Linked DNA regions of Homo sapiens: region 1 is linked to region 2. The links come from fine-mapping of genetic effects on gene expression. Tissue or cell type: whole blood. Region 2 holds a variant in brackets; the other region holds the start of a gene. All regions are shown on one strand. Distances are between the middles of the regions.

What was found.
Region 1: PGAP1 starts here. The variant in region 2 is fine-mapped to the expression of PGAP1 in whole blood (INTERVAL, PIP 0.99).

Annotation. Positions count from the first base shown.
Region 1 is chr2:196,921,107-196,936,592 of GRCh38, forward strand. PGAP1 (post-GPI attachment to proteins inositol deacylase 1) reads right to left here and starts at 5,601. Exons shown (of 27, transcript NM_024989.4): 1 at 5,364-5,601. The coding sequence starts at 5,510. RefSeq lists a silencer at 5,550-5,799.
Region 2 is chr2:196,945,713-196,961,198 of GRCh38, forward strand. No RefSeq gene overlaps it. Among named protein-coding and RNA genes, the nearest start is that of PGAP1, 27 kb to the left of the region's middle. The variant G/GA (reference allele first, on the strand shown) is at 7,899.

The sequences.
Region 1 (15,486 bases), 25 kb before region 2:
GCTTGATAAAAGAATTTAACTATGGAGTGAATTTCAAAACCTGTAAATGTTGCTAATGACTAATGAAAACCCTCGTTGTTCTAAAAAAAAAAAAAACACACACACACAAAACAACAAAATTCTGATCATTTGTGCACCTTCCTAAATATCCCTTTGTAAACAATTTATGCCAATAACACCACAGAAACATCTGCAGAGACTGTAAGCTTATTAAGATACTAGCAATCTTAGTTATCTCCCCAAATACTCAAAATACAGAAATACTAACCCCACTATTCGTTTTATATTTGGTATATGTACTTCAATTCAAATTAGTCCCAATACTGATTGTGCACAGAATACAATCAAAAATGAAAATGATGTGATAGTTTACTTCTTTAGGTACAAATTAAATAAAAAGAAAACATAAGAGAACAAAGAAATAGTTTCCTATTTCCTCCCAATTTAGTACACCATTATTCTTTTAGTACAGTAGCTAAACAGAGTTTGGACAAGTCGAAAATTAACTCAGAAGAACAGGAAACTATCAAATATATCTAAAAAGAAATATTTAATTTTCTTGAGACAGAAAAGCAAGCAAAAAATATTTTATATACTTCATAAAATACTATTATGAAAGCAATTTTATAGTGAGAAAGAATATTTTTTAAAATATGAATATATACAGAATTTTTCAAAAAGTATGGAGATGGGCAAATAAGTTAGAACAAAAAAATAAGAGAGGAGGCAAGAATGGTGGGAGTTGTAGGCAAATGGCAAAACTCCATTTCCAGGCAGAGTTCAAGTTGAAAGGGAATAGCAAAGACCCAGGAGAGGTAATTGACCACATTGACAGAAAAAGCATAGGCATACAAATAGGATGCTGATAAGAAAACAGAAGACGGTCAAGGGATATAAAAGGAAAATACTTACAGGAGCAGGACTCCAATATAAATTTTTTATTCTATGTAGTTTATTTTAAATGAGCAACCCCTCTACCATATTAAGATCAATTACCTTTGTATTTAAATATTATCTCCACAATCCTGCCTCTGCTGTCCTCCTTCCTTGACTCTGCCTTAGTTCAGGTTCTTCTCATCTCTACATAAACTCAAAAGGTAAAAATTCTAATAAACTCCCAGGTAATAGAAAAATGCTGATTTAAGAAACTAAAATATCTATTTTATGATATTACTTAATTGTAAACTTAAACTGAAAAATAAAGTTTTATTTCCATAACTAACCAAAAAGAAAAAAGATTTTGATCTAGATGAATACACATAGTTTTTAACTTCACATAGTTTTTAAGTTCTCACAAAGAGGTCTCAGTAAGGCCTTTGCTCACCATCCCCCATAAGAATAGTTATAGGGGCTCCATTAAAAAAAAAAAAAAGGCCTTAAGGACAACTGAATTTTTCAGACTTGTCTCTATCCTTGCCTTCGTCTCCCTTCTATAATCCATAGTTCATACTGCTAACACACACACACACAGACACACACACACACACACACACACACACACACACACACAACAAAGCTTAAGAGAGAGACATCCTTTAAAATCTGGCTCTAATTATTCTTACCTACTTTTTTTTTTTTTTTTTTTTTTTTTGAGACAGGGTCCCACTCTTGTTGCTCAGGCTGCAGTGCAGTGGCACAATCTCAGCTCACTGTAGCTTCGACTTCCCGGGCTCAAGTGATCCTCCTACCTCAGTCTCCTGAGTAGCTGGGACTACAGGCAGCACATGCCATCACACTTGGCTAATTTTTTGAATTTTTTTTTTAGCAGAGACAGGGTTTCGCCATGTTATCCAGGCTGGTCTTGAACTCCTGGGCTCAAGTGATCTGCCCGCCTTGGCCTCCCAAAGTGCTAGGATTACAGGTGTGAGCCACCTCATCCCGCCCTTACCTACCTTCTTATAACTTACACATGACATGCTTTAAAATGTATTTTTAATATGTTTTTGAATTCAAGATTCAAAAGGATATACATTGAAAAGGTTCTCTCCTACCCATGGTCCTTCAGCCATCCAGTTGACCCTAAAAGGCAACCTGTTATCAGTTTGTGTGTGCTTCTAGAGATATTTTACATATATACAAGCAAATATGTTTATCGATTATTTTTTAGTTTTAACATAAATGATAATATATTATAAATACTGTTCATGCAATGTGTCCCAGCGCATTACCACCTTCACATATACTATTTATGCCTGCAATGTTCTTTCAGTACTTCATACACCCTCCATGTCCCAGTTCACTTTGCATCTTCTCTAAAGCCTTTGAACACCCAAGACAAACTTGGATGCTCTCCCTTATATGAAAAGCTCTGTACATACTCTCTTATTGTGAAATTATAAAACTCAGTACATTATATTGTAACTATACATTACATGCCCATTTCCCCCATTGTATTTATCAAGACATAAAGACACAAGGTATAATTTAGTTCTAATTCCCTTTCACCTACACCAAGTAGCTAGATATACCTGGCAAAGACTAGTCATTCAATAAATGACTTTCTAAATAAATAACACACTTAATAACAAAATATATGACTCATATTTTCTTTTTTTCTTTCTTTTTTTTTTTTTTGAGACAGAGTCTCACTGTCGCCCCGCCTGGAGTGAAATGGCACAATCTTGGCTCACTGCAACCTCCGCCTCCCTGGTTCAAGCGATTCTCCAGCCTCAGCCTCCTGAGTACCTGCGACTATAGACGCACGCCAACATTTCCTTTCAGAGAGCAACCGTTAGGTTACACATACGAAGATAGCCAGACAAATCACTGTATGAGAGAAACAACTCAGACGTTTCTTCTAAAATTCTGCAATTTGCCTAAAACCATTTGCTACCAAATAAAAGTTTTGCCTTGCTGTCGTAATAGGGCAAGAAGCTTTAAAGGATAAAGTATATTTTGCCTAGTAGGCTTGAGATATGGGTTCGTGAGATGTTCAATTAACTCTGAATAAGTGAATCTGGGAAAACCAGAGGTAGAAGATGAATAGAGATAATCAAACAATTTTAAATTCAAAACTTCATTTTTGCAAAGAGTTTCAAATTTATGCCCCATCTTTTAAAAAAATGGATAATAAAACTGAATGTGTTTCAACCACCTTTCTATTTCTGCTGGCTAACTAAAGAAGATGCAAATGAGCAGTAAAAAAAAAGAAAGGCATCAAAAGAAAGAAGAAAACCCAATGACTAGGACATCTCACATCTGGGTATCAACCTGTGAACAATTAGAGAGCTGACTATAAAATATAATTAAAAGTAAGCAATATGTAAAATATCTTTAAAACATTTTTATTCATGAAAGCCATTTGGTTCTCAACAGAATGGCCTCATTTATCCAGAAATCTCACTATGTTCAAAATGACTCATTTCTATAGGCTGGTTTTAATTGTATTTGTAAGATAACATGACCTGGTATGCAAAACAAAAAGACTTAAGAATACAATATAAATACTATCATGAATTAACACAGCTTTTTACATCATAAAAACCTGCTAAAAATCAAAAACTTCTGCCACTGTGATTATTACTGTATTAGCAAATTATTAATAGAAGTGTAAAACCCCAAAAAAGCAACTTAAACCAAAATAACTAAACCTAGACTACTCAACAACAATAAAAACCCAAAGAGCTCTTTACCATTAGCTACACTAATTTTCTGTTTTTCCAGTCAATTTATGAGGCAGGAAATGCGTCTGTGAGATCCATATGCTTTGTTCCCAACGCTAAAGAGAACAATTTCTACTTCTGTGAATATTAAAATAGCTTCAATAATTGTAGGAAATCTAAAAATAAATGGGAATTAGTACTGTACTGTCACAAAATGATTTTAACCAAACTCTTCAATGCGGTACAAAACTAAAGTGACCTACTTCAATCTATTGGGAGTTTCCTAATTATTAAACCAAAAATAAGGAGGGAATTATAATAGCTCTATTTTCAGTTTTTTAAAATACTAAACTAAAAAGGTTTGCTTAGAAATGAACAGAGACGACAGTAACATGTCAAAATCTTCTCCTTCGATAGCATCCCTACCAAATGTTTCCACTCTCTTATCATCATAAATGCAAAACCAAGGTAAGGATCTAAACACAAATGAAATCTAAATTTACTAGAATTTTTCCCATGGGAAAGAATGCTCTTCAGCAATTTAAACCTTAAGTAGTCTTAAGATCAAAATAATAGCAGCGTAATCAAGTAACAGGCTTCCTCCATAATGACTTGTACAAAGAAGCAATCAGGACTTGCATCCTTCACCCTAAAAAAAAAACTGCTGTGATTTTAAGAGTATACTAAAAATGTATTTTATCAATATATGTTATAGTGCATATACATTTTATGGTAGGGAATTATTACAATAGGTAGTCCATAATTAAGAGATGCACTTAGAAATAAAAGAATCATTCGGAAAAATTCTCTTAGGACAGTTGTGTAATTTGTCTGCGCCTCTTTTTACAGCTAGTCATGAATGAAATTCTAGATCCTACTATGCCGAACTAACGAAGCCATTGATTGAAAACATTCAAAATGGCATGGAAGCGGTAGGGGTGGAGAGAGAAGGGTTGGCTCTCTCTTAAACTCCGAACCCAGCGAGAAAACAAAAATAGCACCATGAAATAGATTTTGTATGCAACTATTAAGAGGCTCGGCTGCTGAGAGACATGCATAAACACAGGTATGCACACACACAGGCAAGCCCACACACGCACGGCCCCTTAACCTGCAAAATAAGAGGATCTGCAACATCTTTCCAAGAGGGGATCTAGTTTCCAATTCAATGACTCGCCAGTTTACCCATAGGCAAAACCCTGGAGTCTCTAAAAACAGCCTTGGGAACTATCTAGCCAATATACACTCTGCAGACGCTCGGTCCCTTTCTAGAAATGCGAAATCTGACGAGCAGATCACCGGGCGCGAGGGGAATTTAGGCGCGTGGGAAGCAAAGGAAGGTCCTGGGGCACGGGTTAAGGCAAGAACGCGAGAGGGATGGAGCTTCGGTTTAGGGAGAAGGGTTGAGGCTGCCTCTCTGGGCATGAGGGGGGCTGGGCCCGGCCAGTCAGAAGAGCTTGTGCCCAGGATTTGGGGCTGGGGAGGAGGCGGAGGGACAGCGGAGTAACTACGAGGACGACCACGAGGATGCTCTCGGGAAATCGTCTAACAAACACCCCACCGTGAAGAAGGGACACAAAGGGGAGGTGAGGGGGGCAGAAGGGGGATGCAGAGTCTCCCCGGGCGGAGAAAACAGAGGCGAGGACGGGACAGGGGGCCCGAGAGGCGCAGAGAGCCAAGGCAGGACGAACCCACAGAAGGAAAAAGGCACCAGGGGCCAGAGTCTTGGAGCGCCCGGCTGAGGAGAGGGCAGAACCTTACCTGATACTCCGGGTACTCAAACATGTAGCTCATACTGCACTTATTCTCCTCGAAGCCGAAGAAGACATCCCACAGCCCCAGGGTTGCCAGAAAGACCATGAAGACATAAAACGCCAGGTTCCAGAGATTAACTGAGTGAAGAAACATGGTGCCGCCACCACCGCCGCCGCCGCCGCCGCCCCCTCTACCTCCTTCTCCGCCGCGGGGCCCCAAGCCCGGACTGAGCGTGCTAGACACTGTCCGACCGCCACCCCCGGAGCCGAGCCCCAGCCGCGCGCGCCTGCGCTGATGCCCGGCCTGCCCGTTCGCCAGCCGCGCAGTGCGCCTGCGCGCACCAGGTCCGCGGCGCCTCTGGCCTGGCGACTCCCAGAGCCGAGGGAGGAGTAGGTGTTGCAGCGCGAGCGCGGATCTACGGGAAAGAGAAAGAGGGAGAAAGCAGGGTGGGCTGGGCTGGAGGGTGAGGGGAAAGAAGGGAAGTGGGGAGAGAAAGACGCGAGGAGTGGCTGGCGGGAGGGAAAGAAGAGAGAGAGAGGAAGCATCCAGAGGGGGATGGGCGGAGCGCGGGAGCCCTGGAGACGAGCCGGGGGATTGGGCAGGAGGCGGGTGTCAGATGGGTGAATCTGGGGAGGGGACTAGAGCCCAGAGTCCAGAGGCGATTAAGGACCGAGAGCGGACCGAGAGAGGGGAGGAGGACTTAAAAGCCCAGGGGTCATCAGCTGTCACCTCGCAAACGCCTCTCCCTGCGGCAGTTTAAAAACGCTTCCCGTTCAATTTTGAAAAGACTCAGGCCTCCGCAATTTCGGTTTTCCCAACGGTAGTAGAGCACACTCACAGCTCTCTGGAGCAGTTAGCTTGAAGAGGGAACAAATGGCTTTATTTTCCCTCTTCTACCGCCTACTTGGGCCCAGTAGGTAACAGCGCTTAAAAGCACCGGCTCATTAAAAAAAAAAAAAAAAAAAAAAAAAAAAACACCCGCAAGCCGACGAGATTCTGCTCTTGGTATCAGATGAAAGCCTGAATCACAAAAAGCATCGTTAGTCCTTAAAATATGTTACCAAAATATCTATTAGCACTGACGTCCCCAACAGGTATCTGCGTAATCAGTTTGACGCTGACTCGCCTTGCTCTCCAGAACCTCCATCTCTTGGGGAATGGGTTCCACGTTAACTGGAGGAGGCAATTTCGTCCAGCTTCCATTCAAACTCGCAAATGACTTAATTCGTTTTGAAGAATTTCGGTTCTGTTTTGTACAAAGGAGGAGTTTTTAAAAAAAGCTCGAAATCAATCACTTGTAGCAGCTTCAAAACACTAGAATGTTAGGAAAAAGACATCACTCTTTAAAGCTGACTCAACAGTAGACGGTGTGTGTGTGCGTGTGTGTGTAGTAACCACAGGATTCTTAGAATGGTCTTTGGCACTAAATGAATTTCATTGAACTTGGGCTGATTTTCTGGTATATTTTCTGTGCAGAGGAAGTTTGGCTACAATACATAAAATCAAAGAATTTTAAAACCAAAAGGAAGCTTATAGTTTATCTTGTACAACACCCTGATGTTCAGATTACGAAACTATGAAGAAGAAGTGGAGTGATCCTGAAAATCAAGATAGTCTTTACCCTGCACAGAAACAGTTGCAAGTCTAAACAAACACAGCTAGCTACGGAATGTGGAGTATTGACGGAGAAAGACAGAAATGGGAAAATGCGGAAGCAGTCTCCTTTTTTGTAGGGAGATAAGTCTGGAAAGACCAGGATAACAGGGGAGCTGTAGGTGGTACTGATCAGGAGGGCAATTAAGTAATATGTCATTGAAGTAAGTCCTGTATGAGACGTGTCGTTTTTGTTTGTTTTGAGACTGAGTCTTGCTCTGTCGCCCAGGCTGGAGTGCAGTGGCGCGATATCGACTCACTGCAGCCTCCGCTTCCCGGGTTCAAGTGATCCTGGTGCCTCGGCCTCCAAGTAGCTGGGATTATAGGTGTGACCACCACACCTGGCTAATTTTTTTTTTTTTTTTTTTGAAACGGAGTCTTGCTCTGTCGCCCAGGCTGGAGTGCAGTGGCGCGATATTGACTCACTGCAGCCTCCGCTTCCCGGATTCAAGTGATCCTGGTGTCTCAGCCTCCAAGTAGCTGGGATTATAGGTGTGACCACCACACCTGGCTAATTTTTTTTTTTTTTTTTTTTTTTTTGAGACGGAGTCTTGCTCTGTTGCCCAGACTGGAGTGCAGTGGCGCGATCTCGGCTCACTGCACCCTCCACCTCCCTGGTTCAAGCAATTCTCCTGCCTCAGCCTCCCGAGTAGCTGGGATTACAGGCACACACCATCATGCCCGGCTAATTTTTTATTTTTAGTAGAGACGGGGTTTCACCATGTTGGACAAGCTGATCTCGAACTCCTGACCTCTTGATCCACCCGCCTCATCCTCCCAAAGTACTGGGACTACAGGCATGAGCCACTGTGCCCGGCTTACCTTTTTGTATTTTTAGTAGAGAAGGCATTTTGCTATGTTGGCCAGGCTGGTCTCAAACTTCTGTCCTCAAGTGATCCACCTGTTTCGGCCTCCCAAAGTGCTGGGATTACAGGTGTGAACCACAGCACCCAGCCTGAAATTCTTTATGAAGTGGTGATTTCACTTGGGAATGTCATGTCTGTTATATTCTATTAATAGGTATAGAATGTGTTAAATTTGTAGAATTACACCAACATGACTGGATTATCAAGAAGAACCCATTTTGATCGCAAGATGTTAAGAGATAAATGTGATAAAGAGGAATATATACTATAGGGTTTTGACATTGTTGACCATAAAAGAGAATGCATGTGGGGTTTGGGATGCAATTACCAGTGAGTGCAGAGGATTACAAATCATTTGGGGAAGGCTTTAAGTTATAAATAAAAAGGGGGGAATACATTGAGTCTGGGTGCTAAAGAACATCAAAGGCAGAACGTCTCCTCTTTATTTCTCCTAGCATGGTAGGAGTAGTATTATGACAAATAAACCCAGGGTGAATCCATACTCCCTCATCTCTATCTCAGTGCTTCTTAAAGTTAATGTGCATGTGAATCACTTGGAGATTTTGTTAAAAAGCAGATTCTGGGCCGGGCACAGTAGCTCATGCTTATAATCCCTGCACTTGGGGAGGCCAAGGTGGGCGGATCACGAGGTCAGGAGTTTGAGACCATCCTAGCCAGCATGGTGAAACCCCGTCTCTACTAAAAATACAAAGAATTAGCTGGGCATGGTGGTGCACACCTATAGTCCCAGCTACTTGGGAGGCTGAGACAGGAGAATCACTTGAACCCAGGAGGCGGAGGTTGCAGTGAGCTGAGATCCCACCACTGCACTCCAGCCTGGGCAATAGAGCGAGACTCTATCAAAAAAATAAAAATAAAAAAAAGAAGATTCTGATTTAACAGTTCTGGGGTGGGACCCAAAATTCTGCATTTCTGACAAACTACTGGGTGATGCCAATGATACTGGTCAGTGGACTACACTTTGAATAGCACGGACCTGTACTGCCTGAGGACTCTGTTCTATGGAGAAATCCCTGAACTCCAAGATGACAGAGCTTCCTCTTTTGGTGGCCTTCATGAGTTGTGGCAACTAGCTGCATTGACTGTTCACTCAGAAAGGAGTGGGATAGAGAGTCAATGGATTCTTCATGTTTGTAATCTTTCTATCCTAATTTTTTACTGTCTTTTCTCCTATCCATCATTATCCACTCCTAGCTTTACTTTTATATCTAACCTAACCCTACTGAGCATCACTTCAACCACCCTCTGCCAGAGCTGTCAACTGTCTTGACCGCTTGTCTTTCTATCCCACTCTACTTACAAACTTCCAACCTTGGGACAATATAATCTGGCTCTGAGCTCTGACACTACTGTATCTGACTACTGCTAGAGAAAATGACACAGTCATTTGAATTAACTCTTCAAAAATACTTGGCCAGGCACAGGGCTCACGCCTGTAATCCTAGCACTTTGGGAGGCCGAGGAGGGCAGATTGACTGAGCTCAGGAGTTCGAGACCAGCCTGGCCAATATGGTGAAACCCCATCTCTACTAAAAATACAAAAATTAGCCAGGCGTGGTGGCGCACGCCTGTAATCCCAACTACTGGGGAGGCTGAGGCACGAGAATTGCTTGAACCTGGGAGGCAGAGGTTGCAGTGAGCCGAGATCTCACCACTTCACTCCAGCCTGGGCAACAAACAGAATGAGACTCTGTCTCAAAAAATACTTATATATGTTTCTGGTCACCACCTTCCTCTTCTATATTTCAGACCACCACTTTTTAAGTTCCCTGCCACTTTTTAAGCTCCCTACATTTCTTCTTCCTTCTCTTTTAGTAGGTTTTTAGTACATAACCTTATCTTCATATTACAGAGATAATTTTGATTTTCAGATGCACATTGCTTCAGCTTCTCATTCCTAAGTTCATTATCTTCACCCAGTCCTAATTCAGTTAATACATCTGAAGTGTTTGGCACAATGACTGGCATATAGTAAGCATTACCATGGTACTTTGCTATCCTTAGAGGACATAAAAAGCACATCTCTCTAGCTATGTTTTATGTTCCCATCTCATGCTCCTTTCTTTTCAGGAAGTTAGTTCTATCAGGTTAAGGGCTCTATCAATCTCTCCCTTTCTATCCTCCCTCCCCAAAGCATATAAATATGTGTTGTTGTTTTTTTTCAAAAATCTTCCTCGTGGCTCTCACCTGTAGCTCTTCTCATCTCAGTCAGGATTCCTAAAGATGTGATCAATACTTATGTCTAATTCCTCATCTCCCCTTCATGTCTCAGCTACACTGTAATTTTTGCCCCCCTCCCACTCCCATGAAACTTTTCTTGCAAAGGTAACCATTGACCTAATTACCAAATCCAGTTTACACTTTTCAGTCTTACTTGATCCTTCTACTACATTTGCCACTTCTTTCTTAAAACAATGCCCTCCATTGTCTTCTGTAACATCATTTTCCACTGGTTTTCTCCTGTTGATGTAGCCTCTCAGTCTCCATCTCATGTGACTTACTTTTTTTACTTATCCCTTACATTTTATTAATCCCATGATTTTATTCCCAGTCATCATTCTACTTTCCAGCAAAAATCCTTTAGTGGCCCCTCAGAGCGTGAACTCTAGTCAGGATTCTTTTGGTTGCAAGAACACAAACTAACTCCAGTTAAAATGGGGATTTTTTTTTTTAAGGTAAAAAGGAACTTGGGAATCCAGAATAAGCTGACAAGTTAGTACACATGCCGACTTCAGGGTGTACACAGTTCCCTCATGGCCACTCCCAACTCCAAATTTAACCAACCTTTTAGCTAGTCACTACTGGTTATAACTCCTCTTGTCAATTTAGATCCAAATCCTGCTTTGGAGGTTGGAAGGTGGGATATCTCTCATTGATCTAGGTGATTCTTTTGAACCAGGACTCACATAGCAAAGACTATTAAATAAAGATTTAGAGTAAATAGAACTAGAAAGGTAAATAGGAGCCAAAACTGCAGTAAACAGAGTAGAAAAAAGAATATGAGTTTTATACAATAGGTAAGTGGAAGCTACCGAAATGGGAAGTATTAAGAGCTAATTGTTCAGGAAGATTCAGCTTACATCAAAGTCCAGCTGGACTGCATGGCATAGAGTCTCTAATTCAGACCAACAAGAACTGTGTATTTAGTCCAGGTAGAAGAATAAAAGAAAAGGAGTTTTTTATATTCTTCATTATAAAGAACTATAAAGAATATTTGGTTAACTAATGAAGAACAGGTCAGTCAGCTAAAATGGAAAGGTTCCCAAGATTATATCATTAAGGGAAAGAACAAGGTGCAGAACAGTATATATGTATGTTGTCTTTTGTGTGAGAAAGAGAAATACTGGAAGGAAAATGAAAGTAAGTGTTACCTAGAGGCAGAGGAAATGAGGTGAAGGGGACAGGAGTAGAAACAAAACTTATCTATGGATTTGTGTGTGTGTGTGTGTGTGTGTGTGTGTGTGTGTGTTATGGTTTGAATGTGTCATAAAGTGCATGTGTTAAAAACTTAATCCCCAATGCAATAGTATTAGGAGGGTGGGGCTTAATAAGATGTGATTTGGGTCATGAAGGCAGATCATTCATGGATGGATTAATGTTACTATCAAAGGAGCAGGTTAGTTATTGTGTGAGTGGGTTATTATAAAGCAAGTTTGGCCCCTGGTACCTCTCTCTGTCTTGTGTACTCGCTTCTGCCTTCCATCTTCCACCCATAGGATGACCCTCTCCAGATGCCAGCTCTTGGACTTCCTAGCCTCCAAAATCAAATAAACCTATTCTTTATAAATTAATTACCAAGCCTGTAGTACAGCAGCAGAACATGGACTGTCACCTCTCTATATATCTTTTGACTTTGAACCATAAAAGTGCAGTAGCCAGTAGAAAATAAAATAATTTAAAAGCAATTCTATAATTGAAAATTGAAACAATAAATTTAACTATAACAAATACTTACGATAAAACTATTGTTAGGAATTCAGATTTTTCAGTGCCAGAGAATAAAGATGCATTAAAAATCAAAGAAAAGTTTTCAAAGTTGATACAGCCCAAGTGTCTTATAGGTAGTAGGCTGAGGAATACAGACTACCTATTCAAAAGGACAATAAGAAGAAAGGAATTTTGTACAATGGGGATAATCAGGGGTAATCCCTCGGGGATAATCATCCCTGTCATACAAAAAATGTAGGACTGTAAGGGAAACATTTAGGAAACAAAATTGTATATATAGTTATTCTCAACTATACAAAATGCATAGAAAAGTGTCTTCAGGGAATGTGAAAAAATGTTAACACTATTTACCCCTTGGTAATGAGATTATGAATGATCATTTCAGCATTCTTTTAATTTTTTCTCTACTTTCCAAAATTGTTTCAATAAAGTTTTAATCGAAACTATTTTATCACTATTACTAATGCAATCACTATATCAAATAAATTGAAATTTCGTTCAGACATGTTTACAGTTGTGTTTGGGTTTGTTTGTTTGTTTGTTTGTTTTGAGACAGGTTCTCACTCTGTCACCTAGGCTGGAGTGTAACAGCATGGTCATGGCTCACTGCAGTCTCGACCTCCTGGGCTCAGGTGATTCTCTCATCTCAGCCTCCTGAGTAGCTGGGACTATAGGCATGCACCACCACACCTGGCTGATTTTTTGTTTTTGTTTTTGTTTTGTAGAGACAGGGTTTCGCCATGTTGCCCAGGCTGGTCTTGAACTCCTGAGCTCAAGTGTTCTGCCTGCTTCAGCCTCCCAAAATGCTGGGAGTACAGACTTGAGCCACTGCACCCCTCCTACAAACATATAACATGTTATATCATATTAAAAGTTTTAAAATATATGTCATTATATGATACATTAAAATATCTTAAAATGTATAGATCATAATGTTTAACTTATTATGATTTTGTATTCAGCATTTGAGAAGAGAATTTCCTGATTTACTGGGAGAATAACCAGTTACATATCACTTTTGGCACCTTTCTTACACTTGGAGAGTGAGGAGAGAAAGCCTACAAATTGGTTATAGCATTTGCATTGTAATATCCATTGCTTCTTATATTTTATTCCTCCATGCATAGTTCATTTTTGCTTTTGCTTAATTAGATCTTTGGTAGTTCTTTCAAGAAGGGTTTATGGGTAAACTCTCCTAAAATATGTACATCTGAAAATGTTATTATTTCACCCTTCTGTGATAATTTAGTTGCGTATAAAATTCTGGATAGATGGTTCATTTCCCTCAGTACTTTGAAGATAGTTTTCTATTATTTTCTGACATCTGTTGTTGCTGATAAAAAGTCTATTCACAGTCAGATTGCTATTTTTTTTGTGTGGAAAAACTGCCTTTCATCTCTGGTCATTTAAAAGATTTTTATTGACATTCTGTAGTTTTCAATATGACATATGAAAAAGAGGAAATATTTAACTGTTTAGGGGGAAAGGGACCCTGGAGAAGAGTTAGTTATGTACACAATGTTGTAATCGGGACTCTGAGTACTTCTTGGAATATTGAGTGAATGAGTTAATGGATAGATGGCTGCAGCTGAAAGAATTGAGAGGGTGGTCTTCCACAATTCAAGGTACTGACAGGCTTTTTGATCATTCTTCAGGTAATGTTTGTTTCTGGTACTTTCTGAAAAGCAGGCAGCTTCATAGTTCACTCAAAACTTACATATGGTGTTAAGGCCATGTTTAGCAGTTTTTTATTTGGATACATGTTCATATGTTTTTATTTCTTATAGTGTGTATCTCATTTTTAAACAATAGATGAGTTCCTAAGAATTATATGAAATTATAATATTTATAAATTGAAACCTCAGTGAAGATATAATGAGTACTGGATGAGGAGATACGAGTTCTAGAACTTTCAGTTCTGCCAAGCAGGTATGATTTGGGGCAAGTTCCTCTATTTCTCTAGGCCTCATTTTTTTCATATGTAAAATGAAGGTACTTGACAAATGATTTCTGAAAGTTTATGACTTATATTTTAAATGAATCAAAGCTATTTAAACTTTAGTTAATGTAACCTTTCATAAAGGAAAAGACCATATTGAAATCATTTGGCAATCATCCCTCAACTGAAATATTTAGTAAAATCATTAGAATATTAGCTTCTTAGAAAACCTTTTACATTTACTCATTTTATTTACTGGAGGCAAAGACTATTTTCTTAACACAGAGTAACCACCTTCATATTACCTAGATTTTATACACAGGAATAAGGAATCACGCAGTCTGGTATGGAAATCTAGTTGTTTTCTAAAACTAATTTCACTAAACTATGCTGATCTCAGTGCCCTTCCCTCACACTATAGGTTTTTAAATTAAGCTTTATTTAATTCTTTTCCTTTAAAAAAAATCCCAAATATGTAGTAGATTGACTCTTAGAAGCTTACATTTATTCCACTCAATTGCTTTAAAGCTCTTTCTCAAACTTGTTAGTTATACCTCCTAGTGCCTTATATATAATAGGCATTCAATAAAGATTTGTTTTTAACTTATTTGAAAATAAGCCAGATTCTACAGAGTAGAATACAGAGTTCAATAATAAAACCTCACCTTTCCTTTGATGCTTCAAAGCTTAAAAAGAAAATAAGAAAATATAATGCTAGCAACTCTGTGGCTGCCAGCCCTGTTTCCAAGGAAACAGAGAGTAGATCATCAAAAACAAAATAAGAATTTTCGACCTGATTACCCTTTTTTCACCAGTTCAGTCTCCATTGCTATATAATGAAAGGCAATATAACGTCAGCCTTGCAATTCAGATTTTTAATTCTGTTTATGCTGTCTCCCACTGTTAAAACCAGCCAAAAAAATTAATCTCTTGGGTTGAATGCATGTTTGCTTGCAGAGAGCTAAACTCCTTCACAAGGATGAAGACTACCTTGTCAATATAAAGCACTATGTATATGTACTGAATAATCTAATATGTATTCATCTCTAAACTGTCAAATGTTTACATTATGGAATCTCAGATTTTATATTTCTTGGGAATAATATAAGAAAGCAGTGGGAATTTATAAGTAAAGGATAAAGACTTCTAAAATGAGGCCAAGCGCAGTGGCTCACACTTGTAATCCCAGCACTTTGGGAGGCCAAGGTGGGCAGATCACCTGAGGTCAGGAGTTTGAGACCAGCTTGGCCAACATGGTAAAACCCTGTCTCTACTAAAAATAAAAAAATTACCTGAGCATGGTGGCAGGTACCTGTAATCCCAGCTACATGGGAGGTTGAGGCAGGAGAATCACTTGAACCCAGGAGGCGAAGGTTGCAGCAGTGAGCCAAGATTGTGCCCTTGCACTCCAGCCTGGGTGACAAGAGCAAGACTCTGTCTCAAAAAAAAAAAAAGACTTCTAAAATGAAATATTTTTTTAAAGAGATAAAAAAAGGGTGGGGGACAGAATGCAAAAAGGATAGGAAAGAGCCAAGCAGAAATAATTGGATTTTCATTCAAAAGAGAAAAATACCACTATAACTTTGTTCTTTGTTCCACATATTTATACCTACTGTGTATAAAATTATGATCCTGAAAAACAACAGCTGCAGATAACAAAATCTTGACTTAGCATTATTATATTACCTAGTAATGTTATATG
Region 2 (15,486 bases):
CGTGGTGTTTGGTTTTCTGTCCTTGTGATAGTTTGCTGAGAATGATGGTTTCCAGCTTCATCCATGTCCCTGAAAAGGACATGAACTCATCCTTTTTTATGGCTGCATAGTATTACATGGTGTGTATGTGCCACATTTTCTTAATCCAGTCTATCATTGATGGACATTTGGGCTGGTTCCAAGTCTTTGCTATTGTGAATAGTGCCGCAATAAACATACATGTGTATGTGTCTTTACAGTAGCATGATTTATAATCCTCTGGGTATATACCCAGTAATGGGATCGCTGGGTCAAATGGTATTTCTAGTTCTAGATCCTTGAGGAATCACCACACTGTGTCCCACAATGGTTGAACTAATTTACACTCCTACCAAAGCATTCCTATTTTTAAAGCAGTTAAAACTAAAAACAAAACAAAACAAAAAAAATTTAAAAAGAAAAATAGCCTCTAGAACACAAATTTACAGTGCATAATATTCCTTCAAATATTTATTAGTTTATATGAACAACTTTATACAATAAATTTGAAAACCTGTGAAATAGATTAATTCCTAGAAAATTTTAATTTACAAAATTGACCTAAGAAGAATGGGGCAGGCCGAATTGTCCTATATCTAATAAAGAAATTAAAGCAGAATTTAAAAACCATTCTAAAAGAAAAACACTGTGCCCTAAAAACTTTTCAGGCACATTTTAGCAAATATTCAAGTGGAATAAATTTTAAAATGCTATATAAAAAGCTAGGAATAAATTCACATTACAATACTCACTATAAACATAAAACACACTAAACTCAGCAATTAAGAGAAAAAAAAGACAACCATAGTGGAAGAGTAACACAATTATCTCCATTGATAGATAAAGCAGACAGAATATCAATAAAGATAAAGATGACTTAAACAGCCTAATTTCAATTCTTACACAAATATTCCCAGAGAAGGGGAAAAAAAGGCTCCTTGGTTCATTTTATGAGGTTAAAATACCTTGATACAAAATTTAGTACAAAACAGGAAAACGTACAGATCAATCTCAATCATAAATATAGAAGCAAAAATCCTAAACAACAATAACAAGCCTATCAATGTATAAAAAAATACTTTATGACTGGTTAGGTTTTTTTCCCAGAACTATAAGATCGATTTAACATTAAAAATGTAAAAATGTTTTTAAGATGTTAAGAAGTATTTAAAAACATAGTACATTAACAGATTAGAAGGAAAAACTATGTGATTATCTCAACAGATGCAGAAATTTTTAAATAAAACTTAACATCCTATTCAGAAAAACTCTCAGCAAACTGTGACTATAAGGAACTTGCTTCATCTGATAAAACTTCTACAAAAAAAAAAACACAGGAGATTGTACATTTAATGGCAAAATGTTGAAAGTATCCCTTTTAAAATGAGGGATAAAATAAGGATGTTCACTACCATGACTTTTTATATTCTCTATTTTATGACAAGGACATTCACTCTCAAGACTATCCAACATTAAACTGGAGATCCTAGCCAGTGTATTAAGATAAGAAAAAGAACTAAAAGGCGTATGAATCCAAAAGGAAAAAAACAAAACTGTCATTTACAGATAATACAATTTCCTATGTGGAAAACCTCAAGAGATCTCCAGATAAACTGTTGGACTTAATGAATTTTATAAGGTTGCTGGATTCAAAAATCAATATATAAAAAATGAATTGCATTTTTAAATAACAAAAACATATTAGAAAAAAAAAATTTTAAGTATTATTTGTAATAGCAACAAGGCAGAGTACCTAGGAATAAATCTGGAAAACAAATGCGTAAGTCCTTATAGGAAAATTTTAAATTTTTATTGAAAGACCTTAAAGAAAATCTAAATAAAAATTGGATGATAATCTATGATGCTCGTGGATAAAAAGACTTAATGTCACAGAAGTGAAAACACAAATGGAATACAAATATATTTTAAACTACTCAATGTTTTTAGTAGTCAGAGAAATGTAACATAAAATCACAATGAAACACCATTAAACCTCTACCATATTAACAGAAATTAAGAACTCAGACAATACCAAATGTTGGAAAAGATGTGTAACAATGGAAACTGTCATGTAGTTCCAGTGGGAATGTAAATTGGTACAGCGGTTTGGTAGTACATGAAAAAGTTGAACATGCACAGACCATAACCCAGTATTTCTACTCCATATAATGGAAGCTCTTGTACATGTACTCAGGAGACACTGTACAAGGATGTTCATAGTAACATTGTTTGTAACTACAAAAAAAAAAAAAAAACAGAAAAAACCTAAATGTTCATCAACAGTAGAATGGCTACATAAAGAATAGTATATTTATACACGGTACCATGGTGAAAATGAATGAATTACTCTTAAATGTATCACCATAGAGAAATCTGAAAAACAACCTTGAGAAAGAAAAGAGAAAGCAAGTTAAATAAGAATATAAATAATTTATGTAAAATATAAAAAACAGGCAAAACTAAATGACATATTGTTTAGTGATACATACATATGCTAATACTATGATAAAAAATAAGGGAACAAGGAACACAAAATTCTGGTTGGGGTTACACCTGTGAGGGCGGAAGGGGTGTGGGCATATAAGGGGTTTCTAAGGCACTGGCTATGCTTTATTTTATAAGCTGAATGGTTGTTCATTTTATTCTTTTTTTTTTTTTTTTTTTTTTTGACACAGGGTCCTGCTCTGTTGCCCAGGTGGTACAATCACAGCTCACTGCAGCCTTGACCTCCTAGGCTCAAGCAATCCTTCCACCTTAGCCTCCAAGTAGCTGGGACTACAGGCACATGCCACCACATCCAGCTAATTTTTGAAATTTTTTGTAGAGGCGGGGTCTCATTATGTTACCCAGGCTGGTCTTAAACTCTTGGGCTCAAGCAATCCACCAGCCTCAGACTCCTAAAGTCCTGGGATTACAGGCATGAGCCACCACACCTGGCCTTGTTTTATCCTTTACACTACTCATTTACACTGTATTTTCTCTTCTGTAGATATGAAATATTTCACAACAAAATATCTTTTGAAAGCAAAAAAACAACAGAGATTGTTAATTATTGAGATACTTTAGCTGATATGATTGAGATAAGAGCTCAGTTCTATAAAAGAATTCACTCCCCAATGAACTGGGTGGCCCCAGTGCTCTTTATTTCTGAATAATTAAAATCTTTGGATTTTTTGAACCTGTGATGAGGGCTTGGGTGCAGGTAGTGAACTTCTGGGCTGATCACAGGGAGCAGGATTGTGAGACAGTAAAGCAGACTGATATAGGGAAGGAGAAAAGTCGATAACTTATGTATTATTTAGGTCATTTCTGTAGACAGTAGGGGCTCAATTCCACCAAAACCTCGGAGAAGCACAAAGAATGTCTCCTGAATTCATGTTGAAGAACAGGAGACTGTGCACTGACTGACTTTAGCCCCGACTGGTCGAGAGTTGCTCCCAGGGGTATTAACTCACTGACACTTCTGGGCTGCGCTTGCACTTGGACTAGGTACAAGGCTTCCAAAGAAACCTAGAGGCAGAAAAGGCATTATGCATACAATGGTACAGGAAATAGATCCTACCAGCATACATGGAACTGTCCACCACAGCTGCAGCTGCAGCTGCAACCAGAGGTAGGCCAAGGGTGCACCAAAGGATCTGCGACAACCAGCATGACAGAGCCAGGCATCACATTTGAAAAGCATACTCACAACGCACAGGTTGCTTGCTTTCCATCTCAAAATTGCTAAGAGAGTAAATTTCAAATGTCTCACCACAAAAAAAAAGTTAAATATTTGAGGTGATGGATATGTTAACTACCTTGATTTAATTATTTCACATTGTATTAATAAATCATAACATCACTTTGGACCTCATAAGTTCATACAATTATAAATTGTCAATTTACAATAAAAAAATTTTAAAAATCATTTGTGCAAATTCACCCCCTTGGAGATAAAAGTGGCAATGAAAAAATGTTTAATTATTCATCAGAACTATCAGAACTTATTTTTCCCACTCTTTTTTTTTTTTTTTTTTTTTTTTTGAGACAGAGTTTCGCTCTTGTCTCCCAGGCTGGAGTGAAATGGCACAATCTTGCCTCACTGCAACCTCTGCCTCCCAGGTTCAAGCAATTCTCCTGCCTCAGCCTCCCCAGTAGCTGGAATTACAGGTGCATGTCACCATGCCCGGCTAATTTTTGTATTTTTAGTACAGTTGGGGTTTCACCATGTTGGCCAGGCTGGTCTCGAACTCCTGACCCCAGATGATCTGCCCACCTTGGCCTCCAAAAGTGCTGGGATTACAGGCATGAGCCACCATGCCCGGCCTCCCACTCATCTTTTAAGATGCTGCTCAGGTTCTACATCTTCCAGAAACCTTCTCTGGCTCCCCCTGGCTAGATTAGATGTCGCATTTCAATGCCTCCATAACTCTTTGTGCACTTCTTTGCCACTGTACTTATCTGATTGCATTTTAACTAGCAATATATTTATCTATCTCTTCCACCAGACTGTTTTAGTCGTCTTGGAATGCTATGTTCTCATTTGGCACATAGGAGTTAACTAAATGTTTGTTAAATGGATGAATGAAGGAGTAGTGAGTGAACAACTGATTAAGGAAATAAGAATGTAACGCAAGCCAGGAAATAGTAGGAGGAGACAAAAATAGGGAGAAATGAAGGAATAAAGCACAGGAAATTCAGTCTGAAATTAGATTTTCCTCATTTTAATATATTTTTCTGAATTACCAATATGCTTTCAATGCATCTTACTTGAATATTTTTTTTCCTGTTTTTTTTTTCAGAGCACCACTGAAGAAAGGCATAGCAGGTGATATCCACTGGGACAAATACATACTACCTCCATTTTTCCTTGAGGTTTGAAGAGATAGGCTTGGGGTAAGACAGGTGGAGATCAACATATCATTTTGATTACTTGTAAAGCAGCTATTGGAAAATGCCACTTATGTCTGGGAAAAATACTACATCCCAGAATTAGACTGACATTCCCACTCAGGTGTGGACCACTGCTGGCGATCTGTGTGAGGTCTGGTCCTATAACACTGGCTTAGAGACAAGGGTGCTTCCTGTGGGTAACTGGTCCCAAGAGGAGGAGAGGAGGAAGCATGGGGCTCCCAAATTCAGCAGGTAGGTCACTCCCTTCCCTAGGGTAGAGTGTGTGGATGCAGAGGGTCAGGAGAGTTATACTAACTGATGTCCCTTCACACAGAAGAAAACCCCAGAAGTAGGGAATAAATATTACTGTGAAAGATACTCATTTTATGATTAAGACAAAACAAGTTACTCCCACCAGGATGTACTTATTTTTACAGAAAGGGGAAGCCAGCATGTAGAGTAATTTTTACAGTAAGCAGGTTCAAGTTCAACAGCAGGAGAAAGAGACCAGAAGTTAAAGAAACAATATATGTTCACTTTCACACTAGAGAAACGATCTAAATCTATAATTTAACACTTTTAACATTTTTTAAATAAAATAAACTTTTTTGGAGGAATAATTATCACATGGTACAAATTTCGAAAGGTAAAAAGTGTGAACAGTGAAAAGTCTCTCTTCTATCCTGACAACTACTTTCAGAAGTTATTTTTCTAATTATATGTCATCAGAGATATGTTTTATTTCATTTGCCTTTTCCTCTTGATTTGAAGAGTTCAAGGTCCTCAATTTACAAATGAATTTTTAGAGTATAATCTGCTTGCAAGTCATTTGGAATTCAGATTGCATCGCAAATTTCTGTTTCGGGTTTCTTAAGGTAGTTCACTAACAGTACCCCTAGGCATTGGAGGACACAGCACTCATGGGTCCTACAGCTCTAGCTTTGTTCTGAACTACTAGATTAGAGGGGGCAATGACTATTGTGCACATAAGTATCTTTAACTTATAGAGACAATCTATTAAAAAGTTGAAAATCTGTTTAATTACATACAATGGTACCTTCTCTCCTCTTGGTTGCAAATGATACAACTTGAAAAGGAAATATTTTTCACAGTCATTTTTTACTTCAAAGAAGTATGAATATTTCTTTTATAGTATGTTTCAAAACTAATTCACCATCATGATATGTGACAAATATTTTGACTGGGAAAACCAGAGTAGGGATATTTGAAAGATTCTTATCCCAGAAATTGAGACAGCCACCCATCAAGTAATTAAGCCAAATATTTTCTTTTCTCACTCACTCAATTTACTGACCAGATACATTAGGGCAAGGAGTATGCTTGGAGAGGAGTCAGACAGTCTTGAGGGATGAAGCAGATGTGGAAATGAGCAAGGTTCATGGAGTGATACAAAGAAGGAAGTAGTAAATTCTACCCGGAGCTGGGGATGAGGGTTGGAGAGAGGAGGGCACTCAAGAGGCCTCAGTGAGTGTGACCCTTGAAAGGAGACCTCCTTCTGTAGTTCCTACAAAAAGCATAGGCACAGAGCAATGAAACAACCTGCTGTGCCAGGGAACTGCAACTAGGCGGGGCTTTTCTGGCATAAGGAATATGGGGTGGAGTGTGGGAAGAGGTGAAGGTCTGGAGGCTTCTGACCTTCCAGGATTCATGTGGATGCCTTACATCTTAGCCCATCCATCACAATCCTCTGGAAAACTAAAATAAATTATTATTCTTTCTTCTATTACTAATTAGTTTTGTTTTAAGCATATCAACTTATTGTTAATCATTCATACAGGAGGTTACAAAAGGAAAAGTCAAAGCTGTTTTTGCCACTTCTATATCTAACCACCTAGTCCTACTCAGCTGTAGAATATGTTACAAAAACTCTCAGAAGTGCTTATAGGTATCAAGCATTATTTCTTCTGTCTGCTTATTATGTATTTATATAAGACTATTGACTTATTTATATTAATTTTGTATGCTACCTGTTTACCAAATTCTCTTATTATTTATATTAATTTCTCCATTTACTTTTGTTTTCTTTTTTCTCTCTTTTGAGACAAGGTCTTGCTCTATCACCCAGGCTGGAGTGCTGTGATGCAATCACTGCTCACTGCAGCCTCAACCTCCAGAGCTCAAGTAATCCTCCCACCTCAGCCTCCTGAGTAGCTCAGACAACAGGCAAGCTAATTTTTAAATTTTTTTGTAGAAACAGGGTCTCCCTATATTGATCTGGCTGGTCTTGAACTCCTGGGCTCAAGTGATCCCACCTCATCTCCCAAAGTGCTAGGATTACAAGAAATGTGGGCCACTGAGCCAGGCCTATTTTTTGTTTCCTAGATATGTAATCACATCATCTGGAAAGAGATAGTTTTTTATTTTCCTTCTGATTCTTGTGTAATTAAATGCTTTCTCCCAGCCAGGGCAACATGGCAAAACCTCATCTACAACAACAACAACAACAAAAATAGTCAGGCTTGATGGTACAACTGATGTCCCAGCTACGTGGGAGGCTGACGTGGGAGGATCACCTGAGCCAGGGCAGTGAGCCATGATTGCACCACTGCTCTCCAGCTTGGGTGACAAAGCAAGAGCTTGTCTCAAAAAAAAAAAAAAAAAAAAAAACTTTCTCATATAATTGTATTGGCTAATCCCTGTTTCCAAGGCTTAATAGTAATGGACATGGTGGTCATCTTTGTCTTCTTACTACTTTTAATAATGTTTTTCCAGCCAGGTGCAGTGGCTCATGCCTGTAATGCCAGCACTTTGGGAGGCCAAGGCAGGTGGATCACCTGAGGTCAGGAGTTTGAGATTAGCCTGGCCAACGTGGCAAAACCCCATCTCTACTAAAAACACAAAAATTAGCTGGGCGTGATGGTGCGTGCCTGTAATCCCAGCTACTCAGGAGGCTGAGACAGGAGAATCACTTGAACCCGGGAGGCAGAGGTTGCAGTGAGCCAAGATCGTTCCCAGCCTGGGCAACAGAGCAAGACTCCATCTCA[G/GA]AAAAAAAAAAAAAAAAAAAAAAATTTTCCATTAGGTGGGAAGCTGGCTTTGGCTGAAATAGCCATCAATTTCTATTAATTGAGTATTTTTAACATAAATGCATGTTGAATTTTGTTTGCCAAATACCTTTTTGGCATTTATGGCAGCAGCAATCTGATTTTTTTCCTTAGCTTTATTAATATGATTAATTGTATTAATTGATGCTCTACTAAGGAACCACTCTTGTATTCTCGGAATACATTTTATAATAATACTTATATATTATTATTAAATACTGAAGAAGTGTCATTTTCTGGGGTAAATACCTGAGGTTCATTATCTCATGCCAAGGGAATTGAGGACGTGAACACACAAGAAGTGAGTTTAAGAGCAGAATTTTAATAGGCAAAAGAAAGAGAAAAGAGACTAGATCTCTCTCTTGCAGACCCCTAACTGGATCTTCCAGTTTCGTGGTGAAATGCATGAGGTTTCACAGAGGAGCTTGAGGATGTGGTGTCTGATTTACACAGGGCCCGAGAGAGATTGGTTGGACTAGGTGTGACGTTTGCATAGCACATGAGAAAGCTGGCCATACCACCCTAATCTTTTATTATGCAGATGGACTCTCCACATGGCTGGCGCCATGTTGTCTGTTCCTTACTGTACATATCGTTGACAAAGAAAGGGGAAGATGGAGCCTCCATATTGAACATGCTTGGCCCCCAGGTAGCCTTTTTCTTCTATTGGCACAGCTGCTGGTATTTACCTATGCAAGCTTTTAGCTTGCTTATCTATGCTTGCAGCTTGATTTTTCAGGCTGCTTTTTGTTAGGAAAAGAAAGGATTTGGGGGCTGCTTTTTATAAAAAAGAAAACCTTACCGAGGACTTTCTTACTTCACTATCTGCCTAAATAGATTCTTTTTAACTCCTATGTCAATATGCCATTGGTCCTCTTTGCTAATTTTTAAGATTTTTTATGCCTCATAAGTGAGATTAGTTTATGGTTTTCTTAAAAGATTTTTAGAAGTTTTCTTACTTTTCCAGTACTCTCAACTGGATAAAATAGCATTCCAATGATCTCATCTTTTATGGTTTGATAGAATTCCCCTGTGAATCTATCTTTTTAAAATAATGATTTCTCAGTTCTACCCCAGTTCTACAGAATGTGGAGGCCCAGAAATAAAAATATTTTAAAAGTCTTCGCCTGCCACCCCCATCTCAAACCCATCCCTCATCCATAGGGTCTGCATTTTAGAAACACCATAGGATACGGAAATCTATTTGGTGTTTTTAAGCGACTACAAAGTACACTAAAACTGTAGTGTTCAGGATGGATTAGGGAAGGAGACAAGATTGGGCGAGGAAAGAACATATAGAAAGCTGTTTGGAGTAATACAAAGTGAGAAATGGTGATATCACAAAACTAAGCTATAGCAGTAGTGATGGACAGGAGAGACATATGAGAAAGACATTACAATGACAGAAGCAATAGGTATGCCTACCGATTATATGTTGAAGAATAGAGGAAAATAAAGGACAAAGATGACTCTAGTATATGCACAAAGAGGAAACAATCCAAATGTCCATCAACTAGTAAGTAAATAAATGTGGTATAGACATACAATGGAACATTGTGCAGTAACTAAAAGGAAGTACTGATACATGCTACAACATGAATAAATCTTGAATACATTATGCTAAGTGAAAGAACCCAGTCACAAAAGATCACATGTTGTACGATTCCATTCATATAAAATTTTCAGACTAGGCACTCCATAGCTACAGAAAATAGATTTGTGATTGCCTAGGATTGAGGTAGAGGAGTAAAAAACGGGGAGTGACTGCTGATGGATATGGAGTCTCTTTTTGGGTTATGAAAGAAAATAAATCACTCAGCCAAAGGGAAAAGTCAAGCTGAGACTGCATCAGGCAAACCTGCTCCTGTTTTATTCCTAAATTAGATAGCTACAAAGATAAAAAAGCTATTAGGTTGGTGCGAAAGCAGTTGTGGTTTTTCCTATGTTTAAATGGCAAAAACCACAATTACTTTTGCACCAACATAATACATACCTCCCTCACACTTTGCCCACAAGAAAATTCCTTGTGAGACTCAAGATTTTTACCCTAAAACAGTTATGCTGTATTTTACCTTGGCAACGTAAATTGGTAGCTAATCTTCACAGGTGCTGGATAAAGGACTGATGTCACAGTCATTCCCCTGCTCACCTGAGACAAATGCATATCTGATTGCTTCCTCTGCCTTATTGTTTATGTACAAATCACTGAGCCAGACTAAGGCATAAGTGACTATTCTTCTACCCACCTCTCACGTGTAAATTGTGTATTCAGTGAAAGGCTAATCAGAGACTCAAAAGAATGCAACTCTTTGTCTCTTATTTACCTCTGATCCCTCCTGCCTTTCTGGAGTGAACCAATGTACATCTTACACATATTGATTGATCTCTTATATCTCCCTAACGTGTATAAAACCAAGCTGTGCCCTGACCCCCTTGGGCACATGTCATTGTAACTGCCCAGTGGGTTCACCTTGCCTGCTGCCTGGCCAGAGCCGATTTATCAAGACAGGGGAATTGCAATAGAGAAAGGGTAATTCATGCAGAGCCAGCTGTGCAGGGGATCGGAGCTTTATTATTACTCAAATCAGTCTCCCCGGTTAGGTGTCTTTCACTGTCTCAGTCATAATTTTCCAACGGCAGTGTCATCATCAGGACCTCCAGAGGCTTTATCATGGGCACGTCCTTAAACCTGGCAAAATAAACTTTCTAAATTGATTGAGACCTGTCTCAGATACTTTCTGGGTTCACAGGAGTGGTGAAAATGTTCTAAAATTAGATTGTGGTGATAGTTGCCAGTCCTGTGAATATACTAAAAACCACTGAATTGTAAACTTTAAAACAAAGGTGAACGGTATGGTATGTGAATAGTAATGTTACGTGAATTGTGCCTTATTAAAGCTGTTTGAGACAGAGTTTTGCTCTGTCGCCCAGGCTGTAGTACAATGGCGCGATCTCGGCTCCCTGCAACCTCTGCCTCCTGGGTTCAAGCGATTCTCCTGCCTCAGCCTCCTGAGTAGCTGGGATTACAGGTATGTGCCACCATGCCCAGCTAATTTTTGTATTTTTAGTAGAGATGGGGTTTCACCATGTTGGACAGGCTGCTCTTGTACTCCTGACCTCAGGTGATCCACCTGCCTCGGCCTCCCAAAGTGTTGGGATTAAAGGTGTGAGCCACCTCACCTGACCACTTTTTTTTTTTTTTTTTAAAGTAAAGAAAGAAGTTGGAAGGAAAGCTACTGAACTCAGCTTTAGAAAGGCTATAAATAGTAATTGGAACTATGGAAGGGGATAAAGTTACAAAAGATGAAGACAAGCATGGAAAGTTATAGAATCATGGGTACATTCACACTCTAGCACATTATCCTGAAATTCTATATTGAAATAAACTGAGCTCTTAAGTTTTTTAATACAAGCTGAAATTTCCCTTTGCTTTTCACTTTCTTGTTAAAAAGATACTTGATTTCTTTATCACAACCGATATTCAATGGATTGTTAATTTTAACAACTTAATTGTCATTCTCACATAGTAAAAGAATAACAAACTTTGTATATATATATAAATGCAACCCATTGTCTCTTATCTACCTGTGATCTCTCCTACCTTTCTGGAGTGAACCAATGTACATCTTACACATATTTGTCTCTAAATATATATATATATTTATATATAAATATATATATTGATTGACCTCTCATGTCTTTATATATTATATAATATATATTTATATATAAAGACATGAGAGGTCAATCAATATATTTATATATAAAAAATATATATATATTTAGAGACTCTATATATATGTATTTAGAGACAGAGTCTCATTGTTACCCGGGCTGGAGTGATCACAGCTCACTGTAACCTCAAACTCCTGGACTTAAGTGATCTTCCTGCCTCAGCCTGCCAAGTAGCTAGGACTACAGGCGTGCGCCACCATGCTGGCTAATTGTTTAATTTTTTTGTAGAGACCAGCCCAGGCTGGTGTCAAATTCCTTGCCTTGAACAATCCTCTCGCCTTGGCCTCCCAAAGCCCTGGGATTACAGGCCTGAGCCACCCTGCCTGGCCGTATTTTTAAAACCTTTATCTGGAAATGATGTTAAAAGAGTTACTTTCAAACACCAGTGAGAGGAAAACACTTCTCCTCTATGACTGGCTTCTCTCTGAAGGTTTATGAAAGTTTGACCTATTTGTAGGACATGGGGGTAATTGAATAGGGTGTACATTAAGATGAATGAGTTTAAAATTGTGAGGTTAACCCCAGCCTCACAATGAGTCAAACAATGGAGAATAGCTTGTTTCATGGAGCTGAAGCTTTTGTTATTTTTGTTGGTTAAAGATTCAAATTGATTACATGGAGGCTGCAAGCAGATTCTCTAGCAAATTGGCATCCTGGGGAGAGCCAGGTACTTTGAAAATTTCTAATTAGGAGAAGTTAAAGGTTATATAAGCCCAGCTGCCAAACTGACTGCCTGACCTTAAAATCCAAACAGAATCTACCTTCCTTTCCTTCCTTCTTCTCCTTAGCCAAGACCTTACCTAGAAATGAATTTTAAAATGCAAACAGGAACTTCTGTGATAAACCAAGTCTAAGAACTAGAAGGAAGCTTATTAGTTACAGTTGAACAGACTCTAATGGCTATTCAAAGTCTTTAAGCATTCACAGCCTTAAGTAGTCACACATTTGGCTTCAGTTTCAACTAATCCAGCTAGAGGACAAAAACATTCAGTAAATTATACCGTATCCATAGAATTTTTGTTCCTTAAGCATATTTACTGCATGTATTAGTCTGTTCTCACACTGCTATAAAGAACTACCTGAGACTGGGTAATTTATGAAGAAAAGAGGTTTAATTGACTCACAGTTCTGCAGGCTTAACAGGAAGCATGACTAGGAGGCCTCAGGAAACTTACAATCATGTTGGAAGGTAAAGGAGAAGCAAGCATCTTCCTCACATGGTGGCAGGAGAGAGAAGGAGCAAAGGGGGAAGTGCCACACACTTTTAAACCATCAGATCTCGTGAGAACTCACTATCATGAGACCAGCATGGGGGAAATCCACCCCCATGATCCAATCACTTCCCACCAAGTCCCTCTCGTAACACTGGGGATTACAACTCAACATGAGATTTGGGTGTGGACACAGAGCCAAACTTATCACTACATTTTTAGAAACAGGATAATTTAGGTATGGAGTTATAGATCCTATGGAAAAATCTAGTCAAGACCACGATGAATATGACTTAATTTTATAAATGATGTTTATACTCCTGCCAAAAAAAAAAAAGCCAAGTAGATCATTGATTTCTTACAAGTTATTTTACCAATTGTGGTTTAGAAAATATTTCTAATCCAATTGTCACCTATCTTTACCTGTAGAAACAAATGTGGTCACACACTTTACCTGTAGAAACAAATTTAGGTCACACATTGTATAAATTATAATGGGATTCAAATTTTATTTTCTTTAAACAGTAGCTATTTTTCTTCAAAATGGTCCTGGTTATTTCTGGGAGTCCCTGAACATATGCTTTCCTCATATTCACAAACCAATCTATCAGCTTTAATCACTACTAGAATCATCCACCCACTTAATTAATAGGTACTGAGTGCATACTATGTGAGAGGATACAACAGAGTCCTACAGAAATCTCTGTCCTGGCCCTCTTGGAGCATCCCTAGTATTTTTTCTTGTCTGCTCCAGTTCTCATCTGTCAACATGAAGTCCTGGCAAGCAGCTGGAAGAAATTTTTATCACTGCCTTCACTGAGGAAGTCCACTGCGAAACACTTGACCAAGAATGTGCTGAGAATACTGTCTCCCAATGTCTCCAAAGTCCCCATCACATGTGCCAGAACAATACTGGATTCCACAGGGAGGTGGGAAAAAATGGCCCTCTCCAACTCTGTGTCACTCTTTGACATCTGGGCCCCAAAGCAAGTCCTGTTCATGAAAAAAAATATTCTGTAGTTCTAGGGGCTCACAATCCACCCAATGGCCTCAGTGTCATGTTATCGTCTCCATTATCCTCATCACCCCTCTTCCCTGCCCCAAGCTATTACCAAACAAAAGCACCCAGCAATGTCAATGAGAGAAAATGTACAGTGGGTGCTGGTGGTTGTTTTTATACTAGGAGTGTCTGGACGCCAGCTGAAATGGCCTGTGACATTGTGTAGCATAATTCAAAAGTTTGGCCAGCAATCCTGCATACAAAATGCAACCACTTGAAGGTTTTGCCCAGAGCTATGGCAATAAAGTGCATAGCAGCAGTTCAGTGAACTTTCTCCATTCTTCAGCCTGCGCAAAGCACTGGCTGATGTAGCCAGATATTGTTGTCCATGGCTTTAATTATTTAGAAGTAGATATGAATAATAGGGAGCTTGAAGTTGTCTAGAGCTTGGTGTGGTGCTGGCTCAAAATAGCAACTAATTCCTATGTAAGTTTAAAAGAGCTTGGTATGGGTAACCTCTAGAAGATCCCAAGCCAAGTAGAAAATGTGGTCAGGAAAAGGATTCAGCCCTTGAATATTGAGAAATCATGTTGTCACAGAGAACACGTGACAACTTCCATGTGCAAACAAAACATAACAGATAACAGGCCATTCAGAAACTGTTACTGAGGGACTTGCTCTTGGAAGGCTGAGGATAAATTAAAATAAATCCAACCAACACCAAGTCTGACTTGACACGTAGGTGAGGCAGAAAGCTGAAAAAAAAAAAAAAAAAACTTCCAGAATTGGAGTCTTGGATAATTTTAAATGGTCTCATTCAAAAGTTCCTATTCTATAGTAAAAAAGAGTTCAACATAGGGCTATGATATTTCTAAAACAGGACTTGAATGTGGATCAGATGGCTGAAATTTTGATATTTCTAGTATTTTGCTCAGTTTTGTTCTTCCCATCATTTAAATGACCTCAAAGGAAATGTTTACGATCACTAAAGATTTCTAATGCCCAAGAATAGGTCAATTCTCAGCCCAGGGCTTGACAAATTAGCAATTAATTATTGTTTTTATTTTTAAAATATTTATTTAAAAGGCAATGCATATTTGTTTTAGATAATTTTTTTAAATACAGAAGTAAATACATAAGATCAAAAAGGTCTCTTCCAGCCATGTGTGGTGGCTCACGCCTGTAACTCCAGCATTTTGGGAGGCCGAGGTGGGTGGATCACCTAAAGTCAGGAATTCGAGGCCAGCCTGGCCAACATGGCGAAATCCCATCTCTACTAAAAATACAAACATTAGCCAGGCATGGTGGCAGGCACCTAAAATCCCAGTTGCTAGGGAGGCTGAGGTAGGAGAATCACTTGATCCCTGGAGGCGGAGGTTGCAGTGAGCCAAGATTGTGCCATTGCACTCCAGCATAGGTGACAGAATGAGACTTGATCTCAAAAAAAAAAAAAAAAAGTCTCTTCTACTCCTACCCCAATCCCTACTCCCCACAGGTAGCCACCACTACATTTGCAATATATCCTTCTTGTCTTACATCCTGATGCATTTACATCTTCTTTCTAGAATGTGGGTTCATGTTATGT